Linked DNA regions of Homo sapiens: regions 2 and 3 are each linked to region 1. The links come from fine-mapping of genetic effects on plasma protein levels. A gene starts in region 1. Each other region holds a variant in brackets. All regions are shown on one strand. Distances are from middle to middle.

Region 1 (8,179 bases):
TTGCCTAACATCACACAGTTCATAAGTGGCACAGCCAGGATCTGAACCCAGGCCTGTTTGCCCTGAGTCCTGTGCTGTAGTATTGAACCCCACTCCCTCTCTAATTTTGAGGTTTCTTAACCAGAGAGGCCCATCACAATCACTTGGGGAGGCCAGGGGCAGTGGCTTATGCCTGTAATCCTAATACTCTGGGAGGCAGAGGTGGGAGAATCATTTGAGCCCAAGGGTCCAAGACTAGCCTGGGCAACTAGCTGAGACCCTGTCTCTACTAAAAATAAAAATAAATAAAAATTAGCTGGGTGGTTGGGTGCAGTGTCTCACACCTGTAATCCCAGCACTTTGGGAGGCCGAGGAGGGCGGAGCACGAGGTCAGGAGATTGAGACCATCCTGGCTAACACGGTGAAACCCCGTCTCTACTAAAAATACAAAAAAAAATTAGCCGGGCATGATGGCAGCACCTGTAGTCCCAGCTACTCGGGAGGCTGAGGCAGGAGAATGGCGTGAACCCGGGAGGCGGAGCTTGCAGTGAGCCGAGATCACGCCACTGCACTCCAGCCTGGGTGACAGAGCGAGACCGCATCTCAAAAAAAAAAAAAAAAAAAAAAAAATCTGGGCATGGGGGCGGGGGGATCACGCCTGTGGTCCCGGTTACTTGGGAGGCTGAAACAGGAGGACTACTTGAGTCCAGGATGGTGCCATTGCACTCCAGCCTGGGTGACAGAGTGCAACTCTGTCGAAAGAAAAGAAAGAAAGAGAGAAAGAGAAAGAAAGAGAGAAAGAGAAAGGAAGAAAGAAAGAAAGAAAGAAAGAAAGAAAGAAAGAAAGAAAGAAAAGAAAGAAAAAGAAAGAAAGAAAGAAAAAGAAAGAAAGAAAGAAAGAAAGAAAGAAAGAAAGAAAGAAAGAAAGAAAGAAAAAAAGAAAGAAAGAAAAGCACCTAGGGAGTTTTTTCAAAATATAGATTGCTGAGGCCCTGCCTCCCGAGACCAACTTAATCCAGATTGAAGATTCAAGCAAGTGTTTGGCACAATTCCTCAGATGGGCACTCTTGGGTTGCCAGCCAAGCGGAGACACACTGGTATGTTTGAAATGGACATTCTGGGTCTCAATACATCATAGGCACAAGGAGGAGGCGCCCGCCTAGGGCTTCATCAAGGTGCTGGATATTCCCTGGCTCTCGGGAGTTCAAGACAGGACTAGGATCTAGGCAGGCACCCTCTCCTCTTCTACCACCCCTCCTTCTCTTATGGCTCTCATAGGCCTCTCCTCCCCCATCAAAATCTGCTCTCATGCTCATAATAACTTTCAGCCCAAAGAAAACTCAGAAACGCAAACCCTTGTTTTAGAAACAATTAAAAATAGCCTCCTTTATTGGCCTTCCTGCCTTAGACTTCAGCCATATTTTAATTTCCAGTAAGAGCTCAGTGAATACTGTTGAACCTAAGGAGTGCTCCTTTGAAGGGGTGGTAATGGCATAGGGGTTGATCTCGGATGAGCCCAGGAGTAGCCGCGGCGGTTCGCGCCGGCCAGCCCCACTCCGCGGGAAAGCCTGTGTGCTATTCCCGCCAGGGCCGGGAGGGGGCGCCGGCCTCCAGGAAATCACGCGCGGAGTGGGAGGTGCGTGGGCAGAGCCTCGGACCGCTGGAGGGAGTAGTGATGAGTCAGTTTCCTGCAAGGCGCTGCTCGCCCGCCAAAACTGCTTCCACTCCGGCTGCGCGTCACCCTGGGGTGGGGAGGGGGAGAATGGGAGGGGACCGGGGGGCCGCGAACACGTCACGCTGAGCCGGCCAGGCTTCCGAAACTCCCGCCGCTGTTGGGAAACCGCGCGCTCTTGTGCCGTCTCTGACACAGACACACACACACACACACACACACACACACACACACACGCCCGCGCAGACACGCACGCGCGCGCGCGCCGGGAGCCGGCCCCTCCACCTTATCTCCACGCCCAAAGCACGGGATGAGTCAGATCCCTGGAAAATAAAAATAGACGGGAGCAACGAAAACAAAACCGCTCGCAAGTCCTCCCAGAAACGCGACGTGGAGGGAGGCAAGGAGAGGGGAAGCTGCCTGGGCGCCCCAAGTTCCTAACCCAGCTCCAAGATGCTTTTCCTCACGAAGAGGGCGCAAGTGTCCCCCAGGGGTTTGGGACGGAGAGGACGCGCTGTGGTCCGCGCCAGGCGGCGGCGCCCCAGGGGGCGACTCGCCCCCCTGCTCCGCTCAGCCCTGTAGCTTTCGGAGAGGGAATCTGGGCTAGGTCGGGAAGCCCTGAGCCCCCGAGGCAGCTGATAGAGGCCCTGAGCAGCGTCGTGCCCCCCAGACCCCCCACCCCTCAAAGACATGAACCCTCCCCGCCTCCCATCCAGGCGTGGGCTCCGCTCCCGCCCCGGAGTCCAGCGCCCCGACCCGAGGACAGGCTGGGCCGCGATTCTCCCGGCCGCGGTGGGAAAGAGGTAGAGGAGACCCTTGCCCTTCCCCGACTGACAGGCTGGTTAGAGCCCGCCCAGAGCAGGGCCGTGACTCCCCGACCCCTACAGCGCGCCGCGGAGCGGGGACCCGACGCGGTGTCCCGGACCTCCAGTGCCCGGCTTCCTTGGGAACAAACTGTTCCAGCCAAATAGGTCACTGTGCCGATGGGAGGACGGAGACCGCGAAGGGGCAGGGGAGAGGGCTTCTGGAGTCCCGCTGTACCCCATCCCGGGCGGGGTTCTGACCTCATACAGTCCGTTCCCTGGGGTCTCCTTGTCACAGTGAGTCACCTCCTCGCTAGTCCTTAGGGGACGGGTCCTGGCACATTCCCAAGGGCCAGGAAACAGCCCGCGCTGACCTCAGCGCTCAGCCAGGTGGTGGACACAGTGGCGTAAAGGACCTGAACCTGGGACCTGGGCCAGGGCGGCGCAGATTGGATCCCAGAGCCACCCGGGACCGATCCTAGACGAACTTACTCCACTCCGCTTTCCTCGCCCTTCCTGGGCCCCTCCAGGGACACGGACTTCATCCCCACGCCGCGAGCAAACTGCGCCTGGGGCCTGGAGCCAACCGCAGCCAAAGGCGAGCTCCCAGAACGGTCCCGTCCACGCCCTCCCTCGCCCCAGCTGGGTTTCCAGGGGCGGGGAGCGTGACCAGGGATTCCTGTACTTGTAATCCCGCTCTCCGCCCCGGGGTCTCCGGCACATCCCGACTCTCGTCACCCGCGCACTTAGAGACACCGTGTGCGCAAGCCGAGCGCGCACCGACCCACGCCCGTCATTCACCTGCCGCAGAAACACCTGTGAACGCAGCACACACCCGCGAACACGCATCCTCGCGGACACGCAGGGACACACGCGGGCACGCTTGGCTCGGCTCTGGGCCGCCGGCCCGGGGTCCCCTGTTGTCTGCCGCCGCTCTCTCACCTCCTCTGAGTGCCTCGGTGCCTCGGCGAATCCGCGCCCAGCTCCGGCTCCACAAGGAACTGACTTCGGCAGCTGCTCACACCTCAGCTGGCGCAGCTCAGCGCGGCCCTGATATACAACCGCCCCGCCCGGGCCCGCCTCAAGGAGGCGGGACCCGCGCTCGGCCCACCGCGCCGCCCGGGACCGCCCTCCCCGGGGCCCAGGCTCCTGGCTGCCCAGCGCCGAGCCAGCTGAGCCTGGCCGAGTTCCAGCAGGCCAGCCGGTCCCGGAACCTCGCGTGCTGCAGGAGGGCACTTCCCTCCTCCCCCAGTCCCTCGCCTGCGTTGGTGCGCTGGACACATTTCCCCACGAAGTGAGCCACAAATCTGGCTTTTTTTACTTGGAGAATGAGTTGGCACTCTCCAGGAGGACACAGCACTGTTAGAATGAGCCCCCTTTCTGGCTCACCGCTGACCCACTCTGGCAGGCAAGGATTTACCCAATGCAGCTGAAAAGATCAGGAGGATGACATTAATACATAAAAATTCATAAATTATAAAAACGATGCACCTCTCTGCAATTTCCAGAAAAGCCCCACAATATCACCTCTATTCCCACTGATCCCTCACTAGGTCACCTCTCCCAGAAGCACCTGGAGCACCTAGACACCCCAACAAAGCATCTTGAGGCCAGAATGATTTTTCAGTCCCGTTTATTTCACAGATGAGGAAATTGAGGTCCACTGAACTTAAGTATACAAAGTTGTTGATTGTCACATGCTTCCGGGAAGGAGGGAATTGGAGAGACTACCAAAAAAGGGCAACCTGATCTCCAGGGAAACAGAAGAATTGGACATTGAACCAATCTCCCTACACCCTACACTCACCTGAACAGAAGAAATCCCTGTGGTTGCAGCAGCTTTGTTGGCCAGGAAGGGGAGGATTTGACGAGTGAGTTGTCTGTCTCCTGAATACTCCCCACATAGCCCGTATACACTGCTGGGGAAACTGGGGCTCAGAGAAGTCTGGTGACCTAACTCAGATCATGCAGCAAAGAAATGACTATAGTTGGAACACAGGACTTTTGCCTCCTGCCCGGGGCTCTCTGCTTGTCATCCTTTATTTCTGTGGCTCCAAAATGACAAAAATGCCAAATAACCCTCATTTGCAGATGGTTTATGGAGATGACATAAATAAAGGACAATTCTGGAAGTGTCTACTGGTTCTTCTGACAGACACAGAAATGAGTGATGTGTCTATCCGCTCCCATCTACCTCACACCCCTGACCTCCCCTGGACTTCACCTTTGCCTCCTTTCTGTGCCTGAAACATTTGCAGTTTTGCTTTTAAAAAATTGCAGAGGATGGATTGTTCATCTGAACAGAAATCCCACTAAAAAACAGAACCCAGGCTTGGAGCAGCTACAATTACTGACATCTCAGGCTGCTCAGAGTCTGGAAATCTCTGCCCAGACATGCCCAGTCTTCTTCCTCTAACGCAGCTGACCTCGGGGAGGACAGGCTTCTTTCTCCTCTGCTGTGGGGATGGGAGCCCAGGTAGGGGTGGGAGGACACAGTAGCAGACCCCCTTGGCCTGCCTCGCCCTGGAGTCAGGCCAGGATTGTGGCTAAACCCCAGAAAGGCCACGGCACAGCCTCAGGACCCCACTCTAAGCCCCACTGCTGTCTGCACCTTCGCTCCTATACATCCAAACCATCCAAAGGGCTGGTTGTCAAATGTCCAGCAGAGGACAGGCACCTTCTCCCACTGCCTTGAAGCCCCTCTGCTTTCAGGCATTTCAAATAGACTAGACATTGTCTGTCTGTTTACTTTGGGGAGAAAATTTTTTTTAATAAAGGCTTGTAATGAATTATTTAAATTTTTGTGGTACTGAGCTTCACAATGAAATAATTCTTTTTGTTGTTGTTTTTGGGAAAGAATTTTTTTTATAACTTCTAGCTCACCACCACCACGACATTCAATATTTCTTAAGTACCTACTAAGTGTCTAGTACTATTCAGTGCTTTAAAAAAAAAAGTTTGCAACCATGCACTTGAATGTGTACCCAGACACACTCTAAGGGAGGACTTCTGCCCTGAAAAAGGCAAGGGAGCAGGCTGTTAAAAGTCACACACAGAATCTGACTCCCAGCACACACTCACACAAGCACACATGCATCAGATCCCAGCCCTGTCGCAAGGATCTGCTGGCAGATCACATACCCTGTTCAGAGTAACAGGCTAAGGTTTACCTGGGGTCTTTAGAGGTCTCCTGTCTCCTACCATCCCCTTCCTCACCTGAAAACAGGCAGCCCAAGGACAAAATAGCCACCAGCCTCTTCTATGCCAGAGCTCAACATGTTGGGACATGTTCCTGACGGCCAGAAAGCCAATCAGAGCCACAGCCTGCTGCCCAAGCATGTTCCTGGGAAGCAGGCAGCATAGGGATGGAGGGAGGCTCAGCCTGGGGGACAAGAGTGCCCAGTCCAGCCCCCTCCCCAGAGTGCGGTGGAGCAGCATGGGGTAGGGGAATGGTGAAAGGTGGAAAGCCCAAGCCTGAAGAAGGAGGATGTGAGGAAGGCTCAGTGGTGGCTGCAGAAGCTGCCTAGGAAGGGAGAGGAAGTGCTGGGAACAATGTCACCATTTCTCAGAAAGAGACTGGGGAGTCCCAAATAGGGGCAGTCAGCTTTCAGAGGAATTCACCTTCACACAGGCTCCCAAGAAGTGAGACCCCAGAGAAGAGGCGGAACAAAGATAGAACATTATTGAGCAGAGGCAGCCCTGGCTTTTTGTTTTCATTTTGTTTTTTTGTTTTGTTTTGTTTTTTGAGACAAAGTCAGCAGTGGCACAATCTCAGCTCACTGCAGTCTCCGCCTCCCAGGTTCAAGCAATTCTGCCTCAGCCTCCCGAGTAGCTGGGATTACAGGCATGCACCACCATGCCCAGCTAATATTTGTATTTTTTTTTTTGCACAAAAAGTTGGATTTATTGTTTCTGACAAGTGGTTAGTAATTTTCAGTTTGCTCATGTTCCTAGCATCACAAATCTGAAGTACAATTTTGCTTCTCAATTAAAAATATATACTGGCCGGGCGTGGTGGCTTACGCCTGTAATCCCAGCACTTTGGGAGGCCGAGGCGGGCAGATCACAGGGTCAGGAGTTTTGAGACCAGCCTGGCCAATATGGTGAAACCCCGTCTCCATTAAAAATACAAAAATCAGCCGGGCATGGTGGTGGGCACCTGTAGTCCCAGGTATTCAGGTGGCTGAGGTGGGAGAATCGCTTGAACCTAGGAGGCGGAGGTTGCAGTGAGCTGAGATCATGCCACCTGCACTCCAGCCTGGGTGACAGAGTGAGACTCCGTCTCAAAAAAAAAATATATAAATCTTTGTGTAAAATGAAAAAAAAATCAAGGCATAAAAATTTCATTGTGTTCTACATTTTTAAATATAAATTGCCTCCTTTAAAATATTTTCATCCATTCATTCAAAAACCTTTTAACTTCAACTGTCCAATTTAAGATAGAGTGAAGACATTTTTGAGTATCTGAACTAAGCATTGTCTTGACTGAAACGAAGTAAGAACTCTATGAGAGTCCTTGTGGGCCTCCCGGTCATGCCTTTCCATAGATAGGGAACCTCATCTTTGTTGGTCATCACACCTGCTATGTCTAAATGTGCCCACTTAGGATGAGTCACGAATTCTTTCAGGAATGCCGCAGATGTACATGCTCCCGCAGATCTATATTTTCCAATGTTGTTAACATCAGCCAGCTGGCAATCTACAACCTGTCTTGTACAATGTTTGAAGAGAGGCATCCTCCAGACACGGTCCCCTGTTTCAATGCTGGCCTCGAAGAGCTTGTTCCAGAGCCAGGATGAATTGGTAAAGACCCCAGTGGCACCTGACCCCAAAGCTACATCTATGACACCTGTTAAGGTGGTGGCATTGAGGATGACCTTCGGGTTAAATGTGTGCACGTAACAGAGCGCATCAGCCAGTATGAGCCTCCCCTCAGCATCAGTGTTACCAACCTGGATGGTCTTCCTGTTCCTGGCTCTAACAACATCCCCCAGCTTGTTGGCCTTGCCGCTGGGCATGTTTTCACAGAGGGGCCAGACCTATAATATTAATGGGCAAACTGAGATTTGCAGCAGACACAATGGCTGAGCATATAGTTGTAGCTCCTCCCATGTCGGCCCTCATGAGGTCCATATTTGCAGAAGCCTTGATGGAGATACCACCACTGTCAAAGGTAATTCCTTTCCCAACAAACAAGGGGTGGTTTGTCTGCATTGGGGCTGCCTATGTAGTGAATTTCCAAGAAGACTGAGGGCTCGTCAGATCCTTTGGCCACACTGAGGAATGATCCCATTGCCTGTTCCTCAATCCAAGACCTGGGTCTGATATGAAACTCGGTTTACTACTAGCGCTTTTGAGATTCTTCTCAATAATTTCGGCAAATCTGGTTGGCATCATCTCGCTGGCTGGCGTCTCCATCATGCCAAGTTCTGCCCAGAAGCAAACAGGACTCCTTTCTGCCAGGCCTCCTGATCCCCAGTTCCATAGAGCTTCACCGACATAGCCATCTTCTTTTTTTGCTTTAGGTCATCGTATTCATAGAGACCAAGCACCGCGCCCTCCTCAGCAGCCTGAGCATCTCTACAGGGATCCACCTCCACGGAAGAGAGCTCCAGGTCTTGAATCTGCCTGCATCCTGCTGCAACAGCAGCTCTGATGTTTTCTTTGCCTTCCTGCCAGTTTTCCTGTTCGTCGATTCTGGCTGCCTTTTTGCCGAGGCCAACTA
Region 2 (5,370 bases), 70 kb before region 1:
CAGGGCAGGGGAGGACTAGTTAGAGCAAGGCCTGCCTTTCCCCTCACCCTGTATTTGGAAGAGCCAGTCCAACAGTGTCCCTCCAGTATAGTCCCACAGGCCAGAATCATCTTCCCAAGAGTGGCCCTGGGAGCGGGACTTTCACCCTCCAAATGTCTCCCTACCTCTAACAAAGACATGCGTTCTACATTCCACACTGAAGCGGGGGTGACAACAAACAGCAGATGAGTATGGTAGGTCAACTGCTGTAACACATAATTCCCTAACCTCAAGCCTTCATACCAATAAAGGTCTGTTTTTCATCTGTGGGATGGCAGGGTTGGGTGGGGAGATGATCCACGCAGTCATTCAGGGACCCAGGTTCTTGCTAGCTTTGCGGCTCCTTCTATCCTACTGCCTGGAATCCTCTGGATGCTCTGCCCCCAGCCAGCAGAAGAGGAGAAAGAGGTGGGGATGACTGTCTGTGGCCAGCAGACCCTGGCTGGGGTCTCCTGCTAACCATGTCCTTGACATTTCCCTGGGGGTGAGTGAGGGTTCCATGAGCAGCAGCTCAGCTGTGATCAGGTGGTTTCTGATAGGGACCTTCTGCTGTGTCTGTGACAGGGATCTTGGGCTGATAGAGCTGTGGTTTCTGATAGGCACCTTCTGCTAAATGCAAGTGAGGTGAGGCCTACCTGATCTTACATCATCCATAGCCCCAACTAAGAATTACTAGAACAGAGTTTTCCCCAGCGTTATCCCAGCCTCGTGTCCTCATAATCCCTGGATGAAGGCAGTGGACATTTTTTCAAGAGGTAGATTCTGGGAGCCACTCCAGACAAACTCAATTGGCATTTCTGGGGTGGAGCCCTGGAATCTTCTTAAGCAAGCACCCGTAGTGATTCTATGCTCACTGCCGTGTGAGAACCATAAGACTAGACTTTATCAGGGACTTGTGTTTGTCAGCTTTGTTCTGTCTGGACCCGGCAGAGAACCTAGAATGGCCAAGCCCTCAGAAAGTCTCAAGCCTGAATCTGAATCCTCAAAACCTAACTTTTTATTATAGAAAACGTCAAACACATGCAAATGTGGAGAAAAGGTATAATCAACATGCAAGTACCCTTCACCCAGCTTCAGCCATTACCACATCATAGCCAGTCTTGTTTCATGCACTCCACCCTTCATTCAGTCATTTATTATTATTTTTTATTTTAGTGGGTTTTTTTTTTTTATTTTTGAGGTCTCACTATGTTGCTCAGGCTGGCCTTGAACTCCTAGTGTCAATCAATCCTCCCACCTCAGGCTCCCAATATCCAATTTGAAGCAAATCCCAGCCATCATATTTTATCCCCAAATGCTTTAGGATGTCTTTCTAAAACATAAGGACTCTCTCTTTATCAAACATAACCACAATACCATAACCACACCTAAAAAATTAACAATTCCTTAATACTAAATATCTAGTAAATGTTTACATCTCCCCAATTATCTTATAGTTTTAAAATTGGTTTGTTTGAGTCAGAAATCCAGGCAAGAGCCATAGGCTGTGATTGGTGGGTTGGTCTCTTAATTCTCTTTTCATCTATTCATTCCCCCCAAGCACCTGAATGGCTTGCTAACACAGATTCCTGTACCCCACCAAGAGAATCTAATATTCAGCCAGATGTGGTGGCTCACACCTGTAATCCCAGCACTTTGGGAGGCTGAGGCAGGAGGATTACTTTTGCCCAGGAGTTCAAGACCAGGTTGGCCAATATAATGAGACCCCATCTCTGCAAAAAGAAAAAAAAAAGCCAGGTGTGGTGGTGCGTGCCTGTGGTCCCAGCTATTTAGGAGGCTGAGGTGGGAAAACTGCTTGAGCCCAGGAGGTTGAGGCTGAAGTGAGCTGTGATCACGCCACTGCATTTCAGCCTGGGTGACAGAGCGAGACCTCTTTTCCAAAAAAAGATTCAGGAGAGCTAGATAGAGTCTGAGAGGCCCAGCATATTCCCAGGAGATGGTGCTGCTGCTGTCTCTGGTAGTGCTTCTACAGAGTTTCCCAAAGACTGGATTTTGCTGGCTGCATCTCCTGTGGTGTCATTTAATGTGTTCCTCTGTCCCTTGTATTTCCTGTAACTAACTAGACAGCTCTGGAGCCTCAATCAGAATCAGGTTCAATTTTTTGGTAAGACAACTTCATGGGTGGTATTCTATTCTTTCTTTAGGAGATGCATAATGTCTATTTGACTCTCTTTTTTGTCAAATGAGTTTTCGTCCTGAATCTCACTCCAAATTTGAGTCAGCAATCCAATGAGACCCAACCTCACCCAGCCTACACAGGTGGGCCCAGGGGGTAGGGTTTGTGGAGGAAATAAGTGACCATAGCCACATGCCCACACAGAACACAATCATCTTCAAAGAGCTTTCCTACTGCATAACTCTTCTGATGCTCATTAATCCTGTAAGGGGGGCATAGCTGGCATTACTATCTCAGCTCTCCAGAACTAGAAAGAGATGAATGACTTCACCAAGGCCACACACCTGGCAAGCAGCAGAGCCAGGGTGGTAGCCAATGTCTAGCACTGTCCCCCCTCCCACAGCCCTGCCTCCCTCCAGGTGACTCCCCTGCTGTTCTCCCTCTTCTAGGACCCAGATCAACTTCACTGTGGCCATTGATTTCACTGCCTCCAATGGTGAGTTGGGGGATGGGTAGAGGAGCAGGGTGGGAGGAGAGAGCTTTTAAGGGCTGTGGCATCTGGCCCTGGCTGGGACCATGACCCTCATACTCTCTGGCCTCTTCCTCACCAAAGAGGATGTACCTAGGTCTGGAGGACCAAAGATACAACCAAGATGGCAGTAGTATCCCCAGGTTGGACCATTGACATAAATCTGGGCTCTGAGCCACAGCCTTGTCCTTGAGGAACACCCAGTCTCCCTGGGGGAATGGGATTGTGTGTACTCTGGGCCTATGGAGGGCCCTGGAGATGTTTCCCCCCGGGATCAAATCCCAGCTCCTCTGTGCAGTCCAACCCACAGGCTGGAGTGGAGAATCAGAGCCAAGGCTGAGCTCTGTGGTGTTCAGGGAGGCAGGATCCAGCCCAGGGACCCCAGTCCTTACCTGGCTGGGGCTGCCCTGGCTTCCTTACCTCCTCCCAATTTCTCCAGTGTCAGCCTGTGGCTGAGTCACTAGGAGCAATAACAGTGCCCAACTTTACATGATTAGAAACATCACAACCTCCCTTGGGCTCTGGGCTCTATTAGGGGTGCTCAGTGCTAATTTTTGCACCAATCAAAAATGCCCAGGTCTTGCCCTCTACAGGTGTCAGGAGCTCCTCTTATAGCTGTAAGTCCTAGCATCATAGAGCACTGGGCTATCAGAGCTGGAAGGGGCCTTAGTAATAATAACACTGAGGATAGTTATCATAATATCGATAGCATCTGTGTAATATTCACATCAATCCTATGAAGTAGGAACTATTATTGCTCTGATTTTACAGGTGAAGAGACTAAGGCTAAGGTTAAGGAACTTACCCAAGATCACATAACTAGCAGGAGGTAGACAGGATTGGTACCTTGGCAATCTGTGCTGTACTACCTCCCATCAATGAACAAATAAGTTAAATACAGACTATATTGGCAGCGAAGAGGGCTCTGGGGGGGGAAATCAAGCCAGGAAGAAGGATAGGAAGGATTGGGGGAGGCTGTAATTTTTAATAGGCTGCTTGGAAAAGATCACACTGAGGAGGTGACACTTGAGCAGAGACCTGAAGAGGCCAGGGAGCGGGCCAGGGAGTGGACATCTGGGGAAGAGTGTCCCAGGTAGAGGGAACAGCCATCACCAAGGTCCTGAGGTGGGAATGGCGAGGGGCTGGTGAGGCTGGGACTGGCGAGTGACAGGGAGGAGGGTAGGAGATGACCTGGAGGCCAGATCATGAGTGCTTGCGGGCTCTTGTGAGGACTTTGGGTTTCATTTTGGGGGAGGTGGAGGCATTGAGCGTTTTGGGCAGAGGAGAGGCATGATCTCTCTGAGGC[G/A]GATAGGCTCAGTCACTGCTGTGCTGGATATGGGCTGGAGGCACAGGGGCAGAAGGAAGTGGGAGATCAGTTAGGAGACTGCTGCATCCTATAAGCAAGAGGGTGGTGGTATGGGGAGGAGGAGAGGCGGAGGAGGGATTCTAGATCTGTTTTGCTGAAGGATTTAACATGGGGTATGAGAGAAAGAGAGGAGTCAAGAATTAATAAAAGTTAGGGGTGCCCTTGGACACCCCCTTCTTCATTCTGAACCCGGGGTGACTTGGAGGGTCCAGATGGTCAAAGGCTCCCATGTCCTGTGTTACAGGGAACCCCTCACAGTCCACATCCCTGCACTACATGAGCCCCTACCAGCTGAACGCCTACGCGCTGGCGCTGACTGCCGTCGGAGAGATCATCCAGCACTACGACAGTGACAAGATGTTCCCTGCCCTGGGCTTCGGGGCCAAGCTGCCCCCGGATGGCAGAGTGTCCCACGAGTTCCCACTGGTAGGTGGTCCCGCTGGTGGGAGAGAGGACTGATCAGGCTGGGGGTGAGGTGACAAGCTGGGGGTGGGGGGACGTTTCCCTTCCTCTGAGCCCGGGGACTTAAGGCTCAGCCTCAGTGGAGGTAGACTGCCTGCTGTGTGTAGGGGGGCTCCAGAAATCCACTCCCTTCCCTGATCACAGATGCTGCCCCTCCATGTCTGAAGCTGCCTGCCCACAGCTGGCCCTGGCTTCCTTGTTCCTGACAAGACGCAGGTGCAGGTGGAGGCGAGCTGTGGCTGACCCATCCCTCAGGGCCCCAGAAAAGTGAACAAGGTGGTGTGGGTTGGGTATCCCTGAGTCAGTGCTGAGATGGGATGACGTGGATCTCCAGGGTGATGTGGAGCATGGCGTCATCTGGGCATCCCGGGCCCTGTGGAGATGATTGCACAGGCCACCCCTTTCCCTGGCTCCCACGAGCTGGGGACACTCAGGCACAGCAGACGTCCCTCCCATGCCTGAGGGTGCAAGGTGCTGTGCTGGGCCCAGTGTGCACGTGGACAGATCAGCCACAGGTCCTTCCTGAGTTGCTGAGACCCAGCAGTCATTTTAGGGCAGAGTGGATTTACCCAAGGTTCCCTGAGGGAAGCAGCCAGGGATCTTGGGGCATCTCTGAACAGGTACAGGGAGCCGGGTAAGGAGCAGGTTTGGACCCAGCTCACCTGAAGCATGCACTGCTTCAGGATGGGCCCTGGGAGCTCCCTCCCCTGCCCCGCCACCCCACACCAGAGAAGACCTGGGGGAGCCCAGGCCTGCTGGCCTCCCCACCTGGACTCAGTTCCCACACATCGTGCACCCCTGTCCTTCCTTCCTGGGCTCAGCCTCCCTGCCCTCTGTCCCCCAGAATGGCAACCAGGA
Region 3 (8,187 bases), 78 kb before region 1:
GATGCTCCCACCGCAGCTGAGATCCACTGACCTACAGGGTGAAGTTCCAAGCTCTTTCATTTGGGATGCTGTTTCCCCAGCCAGCCACCCGCAATCTGTGTATGCGTGCTTTTTTTTTTTTTTTAAGATGGAGTCTCATTCTCACCCAGGCTGGAGTGCAGTGGCACAATCTCGGCTTACTGCAACCTCCACCTCTACTTCCAGGCTCTAGCTATCCTCCCACCTCAGTCTCCCAAGTAGCTGGGACCACAGGCACACACCACCACCCTGGCGATTTTTTTTTTTTTTTGCATTTTTGGTAGAGATGGGTTTTTGCCATGTTGCCCAGTCTGGCCTCCAACTCCTGAGCTCAGGTGATGCACCCGCCTCGGCCTTGCAAAGTGCTGGGATTTCAGGTGTGAGCCACCACGCCTGGCTGTGCATGTAAATAAAAACACACATCACATGCCTTTGGAGGCCCCTAGGAGCTGGCCCCTGCCCCTTCCCTCTGCCCATTCCCACATTCATCCCCGTCCTGCCACCTGAGGCTCTCTGAACCTCCGTGCTGTCTCAGCCTCCAGGGCTCGATTCATATGGGTGCCTCCACCTGAGACTCCCTCTTGTCTTCTCCTGGGTAGGAGCTATTGGTCCACGGAGCCTCCCTGTGGGTGTTCCTCCTCCAGGAAGTTGTGTCCACCTGCACACCCGCCCCACCCCAGAGCCTGGAGTGGACACTTGTCAGTGCTCCTGGGGTTCCTTCTGGCTATTTTCTGTTTTGTGACACTATTCAACCCCTCAAAGACCTTGAAGTCCTCAGGGTGGGGGTTGTGTTGCACTTACTGCTGCATCCCCAGAGCCAGCACAGCTCCTGGCCCCTAGGAGCCCCTCAGTGCCCCCACCCACCCCACCTAATGTGCGCAGGAGGGCAGATTCCAGACCTGTCCTGTCCCCGCCTGACCACCAAGAAGAAGGGAGGTGACTTAGTGGAGGGGCAGCTCCTCGGCTGGCCCCTAGGTGGCGCTGGCCCCCTGCATGGGATTCACCGTGGCGGGGCTGGAGAGGCTGAGGCTGGGAGCATGAAACCTCAGGGTAAACAGGGATCTGAGAACAGAACATTGCTTTAACATTAAAGCAGTTATATCAGAGAGTGGAAATGTGGAATACAGGCTAATTTAAAGATAACATAGAAAGCTTAGAAGAAACATGCTTGTGGCCAAATCTTTGGTTACTCTCAGGACTCCGGGTTCATTCTCCCCAGCTGGGAGGGCTATGTTGGAGCAAAAGTTTGAGATGCTGTCCATTCCGATAGTTCAACACCCTCAAGGGAGAGATTGGGAAACTGAGGCACAGTGCAGCACTGGGGCTGCCATTTTGCCCTCATCTTAACAGCTTGCCTACTTAAGCTGTTTTCCCATGAATGTGTCCGTGAGCACCTCACCATCTGGGTAACCCCGTGGAGGGGGCGTCCTCCAGTGCTAAAGAGGGTGCTCTGGTCTTCTCTCCCGGGCTCTCTCACCATCTCGCCCAGGCCCTCAGTTTCTACCTGCACAGCTTGCCAGACCTCCCACGTGAACTTCCCACCTGTGCCCCAAATCCAGCGCCTTCCTTCTGTGTCTACCTGGTCACCCCAACCCCTCCCTCTCTCGAACCTCTATAGCCACGCCCAGGGCCCAAGAGGCGTGGTCACTTCTTGACAGCGCTGTTCTCACCATAGCTCAGCACCTGTCCCAATACCCCCAAGTCCTCATGACCTCTCGCATGGACTTATGGTGGCAGTAATAATAGTAGTAGTAATTTTGAAAAATAGCAACTAAGGCTGGGTGCAGTGGCTCACGCCTGTAATCCCAACACTCTGGGAGACTGAGGCAGGAGGATTGCTTGAGCCCAAGAGTTTGAGACCAGCCAGAGTAACATAGCGAGATCCTATCTCTACCAAAAAAAAAAAAATAGCCAGACATGGTGGCAGCTACCTGGAAGGATTGCTTGAGCCCGGGAGGTTGAGGCCACAGTGAGCTATGACCCCACCACTGCACTCCAGCCTGGGCCATAGAGCAAGACCCCGTCTTAGAAAAAAGCAACAGACACGTATAGATAATACTTACTACATTCCAAACTGTTCTAGGCACTTTGCTTGCATTGGCCCATTTAATCCTCATACCTTTCCGGGAGGCAGGTACTTCTTATTCCCATTTTAGAGATGAGGAGACTGAGGCACATTGAGGTTAAGTAACCTGCCTAAGGTCACACAGCTATTATTAGGTGGCAGAACTAGGCAAATATTTCCTGGATGAGCCTCCTCCTCCCCTCACACTCACCTCCACCAGGCCCCAGTGTCCTAGAGCCTGCTCTGATTTTGTCTCCTACCAGCTTGGGGGTCATCAGAGTTCCCTGCAGGCCGCTGGGTGACATTCAGACATTTTTCACTGGGCATTCTAGGCTCTCCTCCAACCAGCCCAGCTTACTCTTCCACCCTGTGGTTCTGCCATCAAACTGGGCCTGGGTTCTATTCATTTCTCCCACAGAACCTCCTCTGACATCCATCTCTCCGTGCCCAGAGCCTTCCTGTGCCTCTAAGTCTGCCTTCAAGACTTCCTGCTCCAGAGAGGCTTTGCTGACACTCTCACCTAGAGTGGTCTTTCCTTCCTCTAACTCCCCTGACACTTCTGTGATCCCCCTTGTTCCATGGCCCTTGTCACTTTTTGCCCTGAGGACATATCTTCTCTCTCCAACATAGGTGATAGATGATTCCAGGGGAGAAGCAATATATGTCTCCACCCACCCCATAAATGTATGTCAAAGAGATCTGTTTGTATCTGTTATCAAGGTGGCACCAATGTATGCACCACTGGCCCGGGGGCAGGAAACCTGGTTTCTAATCCTGTCACTACCCAGATGGCTGTGTGACTTTAGGCAAATCACCTGGTGTCGCTGTGCTTTAGTTTCCTTCTTGCTGGAAGTAGATAGCAATACTCACCCAGACAGAAGAGACCACGGTAAAGATCAGCTGACGGCCTCTGTGGGAACAAAGACAGGGAAAGGGGAAATGAGTTCACCAGAAACCAACAGGCAGCACAGGAGGTATGAAAATTGCCTGGCTTTGTTTGATGGGACATTAGGGAAAAGTTGTGCCTAGACTTCCCTTATTAAAAACAAAACAAAGAAAAACTGGCGAGGGTCAAATGAGAATACAAATACAGTAAGTGCGGAAGTCTCGTGGGGGGCCTCAGGGCTGGGTGGCTCTCGTCACTTTGCCCAGTCTTGGCCTTGGCACTACTGGGATTTGGGACTGCATCACTCCCTGCCGTGGGAGGCTGTCTTGTGTACTGTAGGATGTTTAGCAGCATGCCTGGCCTCTACTCACCCCCTCAGTTGTGGAAACCAAAACCGTCTCCAGATGTTACCAAACGTTCCTGGGGGTAAAATCGCCCCTGGTTGAGACCGCTGAGTTAGCCACCAACAAGCCTTCTCTGAGCACCTACTCTGAGCCTAGCCCCATGATTTATCTGACACAGGTCTGGTTTGGAAGTTAAAGCTTACACTCAAAGAATAGCTAAAGAGGTTCTTGCTGCCAAGTAAGAGGGATGGTGATGGAGAGGGGAGCCTCAGAGGCCCTGGGCAGCCCTTGGGCTGGGTCCCAAAGGAGGAACAGGGGAGATTGGAATTGGCTGAGAGAGGAAGGGGGTGCATTTTTGGTGAGGGGAGCAGCCTCAACCAACACAAGGGACAGGTACAGATAGGGCCGCTTTGCAACATCAAGACTTCTTTGGCTATACTGGGTGGAGGGTGCGTGTGTTCCGGGGAACAGTGGGAGAGAAGGTTAAATAAATATTCCCGGTTGATCGTGGGACCCTGGGTCTGATGGGAGAACCCAGTTGTGTAACCCAGACTCAATACCAGTCTCCCACAAATCCTCCTTAAACCCTTCTCCCCTGGCCCCGTGGTCTTCACACCCCACACTCTAATGGGGCTGGGCTTGGACCACACCCATGGGTGGTTGGAAGCCCTCAAGACTCACCCTGACTGCCTGGAAGCATGCCTTACCTGGTAACTGGTTTTTCCTGCAGGTGGTAAACCCGAAAAAGAAAATGAAGAAAAAGAAATACGTGAATTCTGGCACAGTGAGTAGCCACCCCGGTCTCTGCAGCCGGGTGTAGACATTCTGAGCCCCAAGCTAGGTCTGGTATCAGGGAGGCCCGTGCGTCTGTGTGTGTGCAGGGGCTGAGCGTGGGAATCAGACATCCAAGAGAGATGGGGTGGGGAGGGGTGGGGCAGATGGAGCAACAGCCAGGGGAGAGAGTTGACTTGCAGACCACACAACAGGCGCTGGCTGTATCTAGCATGAGGAATCGCAGAGACATCCACGGGACTTCCTGCAGGAAGGAAGAGGAAGAGAAGTCGTATTTATTGGGCCCCTACCCTGGGAAATTCCCCACGTTGGTGCTTTTCACAGGTTGTTGCCCTGAGAGGCAGATATTATCATCCCCTAGTCATGAAAGAGGAAACCAAGGCTGCAAGCAGGAAAGTGACTCAGCCAAGGTCACACAGCTAGAAAGTGGTAGAGATGGGACTCAACATGACATCTCACTCCAGAGCTGGCAGCTGCTACGGGCGCTGCCCCTGCTTAACCGTGACCTTCCTGGGATGACACGCCGGCCTAGTGGCTTCTCGGGGCTGGTCTTGAGGACATTCATACGCTTCTTCAGCAAATACTTACTGAGTGCTACTGTGTGCCAGGCACTATTCTAGGCACATCAGATACAGCTGGAAACAAGACAGACCCAAATCCCTGGTGCTTATATTCTAGTGGGAGGAGACAGAGAAAAAAAAAAAACACACACACACACACACACA[T/CAT]GCCTGTGTGTGTCAGTTGATTATGAGAGCTATGGAAAAAGTATAAAGGGTAAAGGGACAGGCAATGGAGGAAGTATTGAGGATACTGGGGAAAGGGAATTCCAGCATTCCTGCTGTAGAGAACAGCACATGCAAAGGCCCTGAGGTGGAGCTCACAGTGCATTTCTAGAACAAGCCACTTTCTCTGCAGTGCAAACACACCCAGATTCATCCTCTCTGTGTTCCTTCCTCACTCTAGAGGCCCATGGCTAGTGCAGCCAAGCCTGGTCATTTGAGTCAGGCAGACTGTATCTCCAGACCTAGAAGAGGTTTTCAGGAGCTCTGGGGTTCCTCTGAGAAGCCTCATTTTCTCCGTCTGTAAAGTAGGACTAATAAATCATCCCCACCTTGCCACTGCACAGGGCAGCTGTGACAGACACATGGGAGATGCAGGCTTGTGAACTGTAAAATTACTCTGCTCATTCAAAGGGGACTGAACACCACTTCTTTGATTGTAACTGCTTCACAGACTGGGGCTTGGAGTCATATTTCCTTTGTCCAAGGCTGCGGTGTTTCTTAGTGGAGAGGCTGTCAGCATTTGGGCAGGAAAATTCTTCATCTCACAGGATGTTTAGCACCCCTGGCTGCTGCCCATAGCTACCAGTAGAGCCCCAGTCATTATGAGAACCCCCAAAATTCTCCCACGCCTTCCTAAATTCCCCTAGGGAAGACAGCACCTTCCCCAGCTGGGAATAAAAAGGTTCAAAAACCACTGATCTCATCCAGCCTTCTTACTTTAGAGACGAAGAAACTGTGGCCTAGAGAGGGCATGCGATTTGTCCCAGGTCACACAGTGAGCTGGAGACAGAGCGGGCCTAGGCCCAGGTCTCTTGACTTTCCTTTTACTCCAGCATTTCCCCATCTTCATCGCGAAAAATCACCCGGGATGCAGAAAGCTTGCTGAAATACAGACGCCCAGGCCAGTTCCCTGGGATTCCACTTTAGGAGGCCCAGGAATCTGTGTTTAGTGCTTTTCATCCCTTACTTATGGTGTGCAGAATCCCCTGGGGATCTTGTGAAAATGCCAAGAATCTGCATTTCTGCATTTCTACCTGGCATCGAGGTGATGCTGACGCTCTGGTCTAGGGACACTACCCTTTGAATAGGGGAAAGTCTGCTTTCACCCTGCGAGCCCCTGGGTGAACCCATATGGTCAGGGCAGTTAGGGCATTGCTTCATCCTGGGGGTTGGAATGGGGAGTGGTCAACTGTGTCTGCAGATTAGACTTACGTGAAGAGCTAAAAAAAAAAAAAAAAAAGAAGATCTCTGAAACATTCATGTAGCCCCGGAAACTCGGCTATAATGGGTCTGGGCTGCAGGATGATCTAAGAGCCCCCAGGGCATCTCATGGTCATCAGTCAGGGTTGAAGCCACTGCCGTGGTTCCTAGTAAGTCTGAGCTGCCACACTTGGAAGGAGGCCTGTGGTTCATCCAGGTGCCTAATACCTTAACCACAATAGCTGGGGGTCTTACTGCCAAGTAAGGGTGGTGCTCTCACCTGGCCCTCCCAATGAGCCTGTAAAAACAGCTGAATCTTCATGAATAGGGGGCTCCCAAACTACCAGAGAGGAGTTCGTTCTCTTACACAGGTGAAAGGTCCTCTGCCCTAATCTTGTCTCATATAATTGGCCTAGGATGCCAGGCTTTCATTTGTCTCCTTGATTCTAAATTGTTATGATAATGAGCTGCCAGGTAGCTGCCTGTCTTGGCAAAGCCAAAGCTAACTTTGCCAGGGCATAGGTTAAAAGGCCTCTGCTTGGGGGAGGGGGCCTGGGGTAGTCAGTTACCTCTGGGGAAAAGGATGGGCTACTTATGAGGCAGGATCTTGGGTCTGAGAGGGATGAGATGGGACCAGTAAGATTTAAGATAAGCACAGTCCAAAGAGGCACATTTCAGGACTAATAGCTCTAGGCACATGGAAGCCTGAAGCTGGTCGGCATTGGCAGGTTGTTAGGCCTGTGCCAGGAGGGCCCCCTTGTCCTCCACACCCCACCCTAGGTCCCTGGGGCTGAAGAGCCAGTGCCCACTTAGAGGAAACTAACACCCTTGGCTTGGACCCCGGTTCCACTGACACAGATGGGACCCTTCCGTCAAGGTCAAGAGTGCAGGCTCTGAAGTCAGACACACCCTGGTTTCAGATCCCTTCTCTGCCCTGGCAGTGTCCTTGGGCACATTGCACCACCTCTTTGGGTTTCAGTTTCCTTGGCTATAAAGTGGGGATAATAATAGTACTTCATGGGGTGGTGTGGGCAGTGCATGCAGTCATGCATGCAAAACTGGCACATGCCGAGTGTTCTGTCAATGTCAGCTCTCGAATCATAACCCATCTCCCCTGACCCCAGGCTCCCCACTGACCAAGCTCCCTTTTGTTTTGAAGGTCACCCTGCTTTCCTTTGCTGTGGAGTCAGAGTGCACCTTCCTTGACTACATCAAAGGAGGGTGAGAAGAGATACAGCCAATTTCATGGGCCTTGGGGAGAGGGAAAGGGCCCCACACACCGACAGGACCGGCTCTGGCCCCACCCTGGCCTCTTCAAAGCCCTGGTTGAAGGCTGTGGTGCTGGGCTCTGAGCAAACCCTGGTGTTTGGGCTGAGACAACTCATCCAGAGCCCTGCACATCCCCAGATCCCAAGCAGCTTGGAGGGAACTCCTGAGCCAAGGAGGCTGGCCTGGGTCATGTCAGGTCTCCATGCAGAGACAGGACCTGGAGCTGGTAGGGACTCCGTGACAGAAAGCCAAGGGCTTGGGGATGTAGAAAGAACCCTGCAATAGGAGTCAGGAGGCCCAGGCTCTAGGCCTCTCTTTGCCATTAATTTGCTGGGTTCCTTTGGGTGAGTCATTTTTCCTCTCAGGGTATCAGTTTCCTCCTCTGTACACAAAGAGAACGGAATAGGTAAGTGTTAAGGTTCCTTACAGCTCTGAGCTTCTGACACCTCTGATCTGTCTGGTTGGGGGAGGGGGACAGTGATTAACCTGCTCACTGTTATTAGGGCCCTGTAAGGGCAGCGGGATTGGGGATAAGCCAGGGATTGGTCCTGGGGCCAGCAGGTGGTCAAACATGAGTTTAAGGAGCAGAAAGAACCACCAGGCACAGTGTCTAGGCCCAGACAGATGGGGGAGCCAGGAGGCCCCAGCCAGCAGCTCACGGAAAGAGCCTGGCTCTAAGGGTAGAGCCTGCCCAGCATGCTGCCTGCCAGGACAGGTGCCAGGTCAGGGCGTGGGCAGCCAAGAGCCCGCAGGTGAGTGACTGCACCTGTCTGGAAAGGAGACAGGCAGGAGCAACTGCCAAAGGCTCATCCCAGCCAAGTGGACCCTTGG

Direction of the effects. Alleles are on the strand shown, and positions count from the first base shown. The strength of an association depends on the size of the effect and on how common the allele is. Not every link is listed here.
For the plasma level of the protein whose gene starts at base 3,481 in region 1, allele CAT in region 3 goes with a higher level than allele T (weak association).

What was found. PIP is the posterior inclusion probability: the model's chance that the variant is causal. Protein levels are from antibody-based Olink assays in UK Biobank. Linkage for the fine-mapping came from a reference panel and not from the study's own genotypes, which makes the PIPs less certain.
Region 2: its variant is fine-mapped to the plasma level of the CDKN1A protein (UK Biobank, PIP above 0.99).
Region 3: its variant is fine-mapped to the plasma level of the CDKN1A protein (UK Biobank, PIP 0.95).

The regions. Positions count from the first base shown.
Region 1 is chr6:36,674,016-36,682,194 of GRCh38, reverse strand. It overlaps CDKN1A (cyclin dependent kinase inhibitor 1A), which reads right to left and starts at 3,481. Exons shown (of 3, transcript NM_000389.5): 1 at 3,397-3,481. It overlaps PANDAR (promoter of CDKN1A antisense DNA damage activated RNA), which reads left to right and starts at 7,069. Exons shown (of 1, transcript NR_109836.1): 1 at 7,069-8,179. It overlaps DINOL (damage induced long noncoding RNA), which reads left to right and starts at 3,636. Exons shown (of 1, transcript NR_144384.1): 1 at 3,636-4,586. It also overlaps the pseudogene LAP3P2. RefSeq lists silencers at 1,479-1,868, 3,439-3,668 and enhancers at 2,600-3,187, 3,199-3,388, 4,581-5,780, 5,760-5,829, 5,880-5,969.
Region 2 is chr6:36,745,502-36,750,871 of GRCh38, reverse strand. CPNE5 (copine 5) reads left to right here. Exons shown (of 21, transcript NM_020939.2): 15 at 2,605-2,651; 16 at 4,295-4,476; 17 at 5,357-5,370. Among named protein-coding and RNA genes, the nearest start is that of RAB44, 50 kb to the right of the region's middle. The variant G/A (reference allele first, on the strand shown) is at 3,991.
Region 3 is chr6:36,752,155-36,760,341 of GRCh38, reverse strand. It overlaps CPNE5 (copine 5), which reads left to right. Exons shown (of 21, transcript NM_020939.2): 13 at 4,044-4,097; 14 at 7,247-7,308. Among named protein-coding and RNA genes, the nearest start is that of RAB44, 58 kb to the right of the region's middle. RefSeq lists enhancers at 102-1,070, 906-1,095, 3,781-4,980. The variant T/CAT (reference allele first, on the strand shown) is at 4,831.